Linked DNA regions of Homo sapiens. The protein of the gene in region 2 binds, or shares a complex with, the protein of the main gene of each other region. Each region holds a gene or a part of one and is shown on either strand. Other genes may lie near its edges.

Region 1 (3,600 bases), on a different chromosome or scaffold from region 2:
ACCCGGCCGGGAGCGGTGGCTCATGTCTGTAATCCCAGCACTTTGGGAGGCCGAGGTGGGGGGATCACAAGGTCAGGAGATCGAGACCATCCTGGCTAACACGGTGAAACCCCATCTCTACTAAAAATACAAAAAAATTAGCCAGGCGTCGTGGCGGGCGCCTGTAGTCCCAGCTACTTGGGAGGCTGAGGCAGGAGAATGGCATGAACCAGGGAGGCAAAGCTTGCAGTGAGCCAAGATAGCACCACTGCACTCCAGCCTGGGTGACAGAGCGAAACTCCGTCTCAAAAAAAAAAAAAAATTACTGAGACCCTCAAAGAGCTTTTCTGTATGTGAATTACATCCACCTATATTTATACTAATAGAAATTATAACAAATTTTTAATTTTCACTAATTTGTTTAGAAATAATGGATCCATTATATGTTAACATAAATAACATTTTTCTGAAAATAGCCATATTTTAGTAAATAAAATTGAGTGAGAATGACAAATGACTTAAAGGAAAATAGCTAGATTCTCGTATCTGACCCTGTTTTTGCTTTGTTTTGGTGGAGGTGTACAAAGAAAATCTGCCTTCCTACAATTAAGTAGTTGGGAAAAGAAAAGGTACTTTTAAGTGACAGTTTCTTAATAGTTAGTTACAATGCAGAATATGAAACCATATAACTGTGAACTTTTCATACTTTTAAAGTCCATTAATTTATCTTGCATTTTGAATGAATTTTCCAACATTATGCATTGGATATTCAGAAAATACAAGTTCAGTGAATTATATGGATCTTTCAACTGTAAACACACTTCATTACGGAATATCAAACAATCAAATTTCTTAATATCAACATTGAGTCCTCATCTTTTTAATATTCAGTTTGTCAGAAATGAGAAGTATACATAAAGCATTTCTGCTGCTTATTTACAGTTATCTCAAGGAAAAGCACCTGTGCACTTGAATTGTGAATTTAACTGGTCACTTTTCTCACAGAATACAACTTTTACTTGAAAGAATGACGGGCAAACTATGATTTTCCAGACTTAAGCATTTAGTCAACCTTGTGGACCCCCTGAAAGAACCCTTGGGGAGAATCCAGGGCTCCATGAACTATACCTTGAGAACCACTATTCTAATCAACAGGGCAAAAATATTCCACAATTTCATGAGTCATTACAATGCAAGGAAAACACAACTGCTAATAAAAAAAATCTAAATATTTCCACTTGAATCCAAGATACAGAAAACCAGCTCTCAATGTAAAATATATTCAAAACATTCGGCCTACATAAAGGGTCTACTTCAAGAACCTAAAATTCTTTTATCAAGCACTTAATCCCTACAACTTAAAACACACTTTAGAATACAGGTACATTAAGACCATTAAAAAAAGATAAGATTAAGGCTGGGCGCTGTGGCTCACACCCATAATCCTATCACTTTGGGAGGCCGAGGCGGGAGGATCACTTGCAGCCAGGAGTTCGAAAGCAGCCTTGACAACATGGTGAAAACCATCTCTACCAAAAATACAAAAATTAGCCAGGCATGCTGGCATGTGCCTGTAGTCCCAGGGGTGGGAGGATGGTTTGAGTCTGGGAGGCAGAGGTTGCAGTAAGTCCAGATTGTGCCACTGCACTCCAGCCTGGGCGACAGAGCCCGACCCTGTCTCAAAAATAAAAAACGAAAAAAGAAAGCAACAAAATTCTTCCAGACATGTCAAGTAATTAGACCATAAAATGTAGAATGTTAACTATCCAATAATAACTGCTAATGCTACTATCAAGCATTGTGCTAAGATTTTATATGGTTATTCCATTTAATCCTCAAAACAAACCTATAAGGTAAGTACTACCAATTTCCATCTTACGTATAAGAAAACTGAAATATAAATGTAGCTTGCCTAAGGTCAGAGGAAGAATGCATGGCAGAGTTGGGATTTAAAACCAGCACACTTCACTCAACTATACGTTCATCCTATAGAAAAATTACAGATTCATCTCCGGCTAAAGAAAATGTTTTGTGGGGGAAAAGTAGGAATATTTTAAAAAAAAGACAAACTCACAGTTTTTAGTTCCATCAGTACTTGTTCATCCACTCCATCATCCAGAAAGATGTCTCTCACATCATTAATGACATCTTCAATCACAGATCTGTATAATTTAGGCTTTAAAGGAAAAATAAAAGACTTGAAAAAGACAGTTTTTCACAGCTTATAATGTATAACAGGTTTTCACAAATTCAAAACGAATAGTCATTTTGCCAACTATCTATATATGACTTTAAAGATACGACCACCATCATTTGCCATAAACTGGATTTGATGACTGCACACTTTAATAAAAATTTTAAGATTAATGCAGTTCATAAACAGAAGGCCCCTAAGACTACAAGGTCCATACAATTTCCAATTATAATTTCCTATGTTGTAGTCAAAATACCTAATGTAATGTTCAATAATAGCTTTACGGGTTGCTTATGTCTGGCTTCTACTATTCCATGCTTGGTTTGAACTCTGTTGTATGTCTTACTACCTCACCACTGTATCTTAGACTTTGGAGAATCTTATGTCCGGGAGTCATCTGCCTGGTAATAATCTGCAACCTAATGAACATTCAGGTTTAAAAATCACCTAACTTCTGTTGTGTGACCCAGTCTGTACTTTCAAGCTGTACCATTAAACTACTCATACACTCACAATGGCAGGTCTTAAGGTCCCAAGGAACAAGGTATACTGATTTCCTTCCCAGGATTTCTCCTCTACTACTGCCCAGGTAATGCTATGAAACATTATAATGAACATGAACCCTCTAAATGTTTACTATTATTATTACAATTAGCACCGTTGATACTACTTGGAGGAGCGGGAAGTAAAGAAGCTGGCTTCTAGAAGGTTGAATGGTAAAATGAGTAAAATGAGAATAGATGTGAAAGAACTTTCAAAAAGTATAAAATATTTTTTAAAAACTACAAAGTGGGAGATAGAACAATTAGCCCAATCCACATCCTATTTTTTCCCCCACATCCTATTTTTAACCTGTTAGACAAAAGGAAGTCATGTCAGATGACAAAACTAGAGCTGCCTTGACAAAACTAGAGTTGCCTGGTTATAAATCCTCCCCATTATCAGAGGGTTATGGTTAACAAGCTTTTTAGATGTTTTCTCATTACTTCTGTTTCATACCTTGCTTAAGGTTAATCGCTATCAAATAAAACCAATTTTGGGAGGATCGCTTGAGCTCAAGAGTTCAAGACCAGCCTGGGTAACATAGTGAAACCCAATCTCCACAAAAAATTAGCCAGGAGTGGTGGCACGTGCCTGTAGTCCCAGCTGCTTGGGAGGCTGAGGTGGGAGGATGGCTTGAGCCCAGGAGGGAGAGGGTGCAGTGAGCCAAGATTGCACCACTGCCCTCCAGCCTGGGTGACAGGCCCAGACCCTGTCTCAGAAAACAAACAAATACAAATGAGTTTGTCAATACAATTTACCTCAACCATTAAATACTATTTAATCCTTCTCATTACAAGAAAACCAATTCAAATATCTGGGTTCTTGCTTTACTGTTCACTCACTAACCTGCTTTATTTTGCCAAATCCGCCTCTTGAAGTTTATT
Region 2 (3,953 bases):
CTAGTCACTCCCAATGTATCCATTCTTATAGTAAGTGATTACACATGAGTCACCTCCTACTTAGGAAGTGCCTCCCCAAACCAAGTTTCCTGATCCTCACAGCAACTCTGTGCCATAAACAAGATAAGCATTATTATTCTCATGAATCAGAGGAGTGAATTAATAATCTACCCATGATCCCAAAATTAATAAGCAATAGACTCAAGCCCCAGCTTTTAGGTTTGAAACTGATACTACCCCATTCCCCTCTCCTTCTGCCACCAAGAAAATATCATATCTTTCCCACCACAATGAAATTCTTAGTTGCTGCTGCCAAAACACTTTGTTTGATGAGCCCATAAAATAACTTGATATTTAGGTCGGGCATGGTGGCTCACGCCTGTAATCCCAGCACTTTGGGAGGCCGAGGCAGGTGGATCACAAGGTCAAGCGATTGAGACCATCCTGGCCAACATGGTGAAACCCCACCTCTAATAAAAATACAAAAACTAGCTGGGCGTGGTGGCACGCGCCTGCAGTCCCAGCTACTCAGGAGGCTGAGACAGAAGAATCGCTTAAACCCAGGAGGCAGAGGTTGCAGCGAACCAAGATCGTGCCACTGCACTCCAGCCTGGTGGCAGAGCGAGAATCCGTCTCAAAAAAATAAAATAAAATAACTTGATATTCATAACCTGGATATCATCATGAGGAAACAATAGTCAAACCTAAATTGAGACACAATGCAAAAATAACTTTCCTGAACTCTTCACAAATGTCAAGGTCATGAAAGACAAGGAAAGACTGAGAAACTGTTCTAGATTAAGGAAACTAAAGAACCATGCAATTAAATGCAATGCACAATCCTGGATTAGCTCCTAGACCCATTAAAGACATCGTTAGGTTTGAATACAATAACAGTTGCTTTCTCAAAAAAAAAAAAAAAAAAAAAAGACATCATTAGGACAACTGGCAAAATTTGAATTGAGGACTGCTGACTATATGGATATCAATGTTACCCTGATTTTGATGGCTACACTGCAGAGAATGTCCTTGTTCTTAGGAAACACATACTGAAGAATTAAAGAATGATATGGCTTCATGCCTGCAACTTACTCTCATGTGGTTCAGGAGGAGAAATAAAAAGGGAGAGAATAATAGAGCAAATGTGGTAAAATGTTAAAAGTTTTTTTAAAAATGGTACGATGGGCTGGCCGTAGTGGCTTACATCTGTAATCCCGGCACTTTGGGAGGCTGAGGTGGGAAAATCACTTGAGCCCAGAAGTTTGAGACCAGCCTGGGCAACAAAGTAGACCCTATCTCTACAAAAAAAAAAAGAATTTCAAAATAAAGATGCCATGATGAAGTCAGGAATAACAGAACTGCAGTCCCTGCCAGCCATGACTCTCCACTTCACACCAGTACCAAAGGAACATTTGCTTTCAAACCTAGTCCTTCTGTATATTTATTTTCCTCTCTAGCCATAAAGAAACTGTATTATCTAAATGTTGGAGAAAACACAGCACTGCAAGCACAGCCCAAAGATACATGCATACTGTGTAGACAACCTAACAGATTTTGCTTTTCTAGACAAGAGGAACCCCTTGTGGAGGATTTTGAAAATAAGTAATTTTAACCTATGAGAATTTGCTATCAAAATGGTAGAGCCCCATTACAATACACTAAAGATAAACTTTACTAACAAATAACAAATGTTACCCACATTCAAAGCCAAAAGTCTGTTAATACAAAAGATAACAGTGCCAAAGAACTCTACTGTCTCCTTTAATAGTCAACACTCATACCCTTCAGATTTCTCTTCACCATTTTACCCACCATCCAGTCTCCCTGAGAATCTCCTACAAACCTGGAATTCCCCTCCTTATCAGCTACTTCTCAAATCTTCTCTCTTAATTTCTCTTCCTGGTGTCTAAAATTGTCTGCCTCTGGCCTTTTTCTCATTCTAAATTCTCCTTAGGCAATTTCATAGTAATCTATAATTATCATTAATAAATTAAAAATTTTACATCTCTAGACTTGACCGTCTTTCAAATCATGTTTGCAACTCACTGTTGGAAGTTCACGTCTTAGTGTTCTGACACTAAGACACTAAATCAACATATCCAAAACAAAATTATTGTCTTACCTCTAAAACCTCTTTCCCCTTCTAACATGTTCCCAATCTTATTTTTCCCCCAACCTATTCAAAGCACCTCTCTTTAATCACCCAAGCCACAAACACCAACAGTATTTCCAATTCCTCTCTTCATTGCTCCACACTCAACCAGTCATCAAGTCCTATCAAGTGTATTTCAAAAGGTATCTTACCCATCATTCTTTTTCATTTCTTTAGGACCTTGCCATTTCACATTTATACTACTGCAAAAACCCCTAAATTAGCTCCCTGTTAATACAGTACCTGATTGTAATCTACTCTTTATGCCGCTGTCAGAATGGTATTCCTAAAACAAATTTCTAATTGTATTACTTCCCTGATCCAAAAGGTTGGATGGGTCTCCATTTTCAAAATAAAATTCAACCTGTTCAAGCTCTCTCCACACTGAGACCAAGCTTTCACTTCCATATATTTACACTCCACTCCCACTAAGCTGACATGACTAACTGTACCGTACATTTTGCATGTCTTCGTCCATCTGGGCCCTTGCTTAAACCACCTCTCAAATGCAAATACCCCTTCATCAATTTTGCTCCAATCTAAAATGCCACCTTCTCCATGAAACTGGATCTAGACTTCCAACAGGAATTAATTGCTTCCATCAGTCTGTGCTTCCAAAGGACTTTGTACCTCCACCAAAACACTTTCCACATACCTACCTTTTTATTATGTTCATGTTTCCCACCATATTATAAATTCCGTGAGAACAGGCACTATGTCATATTTATTTTTTAATCCTCCCAAGCACCCAGAAAAGTGCCTTAAGCACAGAAGGATCTTAAATAACGTAGAGCAAAACTGACCATACCTGCTGGCAGCTCTCTAAATCGTAGATATTCCATAGACCGTGTAGTCACAAGTGGCTTTTGAGGATAATAGAGAACATGGGCCAATGTGTCCATGCGAACATGGAAGTTGGTGATGTAAACTCCCATAGCCTGCTTACCCATAGCAGACTGGTATGTGTTTCTAGGGGACTAAACGTAAAAATGAAAAGCAGAAACAACAAAAAGTTACTATCACTAATGGAAAAGACTCTGACAATAAATCAAAAGAAATATGATTGGTAAAACTCCTGATTTTTTTCAAAAACAGTAAGTAATAACCATTTGGAATAATCAATTACGGCTCTTAACCATGAAACACAACAGCAATTATATCAAATACTGATTCCGTAGGAGTTAATAGCCTTTTCATTAAAAGGCTTTTTCCCTCCAGATAAGACTACAGAGTTACTTTCAATTTTTATTACTTCTCCCAATTCCTCACACCAGAAGACAAAAAGTGATACCAACCTGGTTATGATCAGGAAAGGGAATAATAGATGCACAGACACCAAGGATCATTGAGGGATGAATCTCACAGTGTGTATATGTGGAACAATAAGCTACTTCTTTCTCCTGTAAATCATCTGGAGTCATTGCAAGCATCACTGTTTCTTCTTCCAGGGTATCAATATACTCCACTACCCCACTGGCCACAAGATCCTGCCAACTAAAAAAGAATTCACTCAATTTTCTACTTCCTCAAGTATTTTAACTAACTATTCCTCCTACTTAAAAGTATTCCTATATTTATATTTAAATAAGTTTAATATTATATATTAAATATACATATATATTTATATATATATATAGTTTAATATTATATATAACTGACCAACATAGTTACATGATTGTTGACAAGTGAAATAGGTAAGCTGCTGGAGAATAAGCACTGGAAGAATACACACCTAACTGTTACCAGTATATACTTGTGAAGAAGAGAGTATACATTGGAGGGCAATTTTTTAAATTTATCA

The links. The genes of interacting proteins can lie anywhere in the genome.
Region 1: POLR2B (region 2) and GTF2A1 share a complex: the UniProt entries of both Homo sapiens proteins name them as parts of the TBP-based Pol II pre-initiation complex.

What each region holds. Positions count from the first base shown.
Region 1 is NC_000014.9:81,214,360-81,217,959, forward strand, and holds part of GTF2A1 (transcription initiation factor IIA subunit 1), read right to left. Parts: intron 2,156-3,600; coding exon 2,054-2,155; intron 1-2,053. UniProt on the Homo sapiens protein: TFIIA is a component of the transcription machinery of RNA polymerase II and plays an important role in transcriptional activation. TFIIA in a complex with TBP mediates transcriptional activity.
Region 2 is NC_000004.12:57,016,736-57,020,688, reverse strand, and holds part of POLR2B (DNA-directed RNA polymerase II subunit RPB2), read right to left. Parts: intron 3,647-3,953; coding exon 3,448-3,646; intron 3,130-3,447; coding exon 2,961-3,129; intron 1-2,960. UniProt on the Homo sapiens protein: Catalytic core component of RNA polymerase II (Pol II), a DNA-dependent RNA polymerase which synthesizes mRNA precursors and many functional non-coding RNAs using the four ribonucleoside triphosphates as substrates.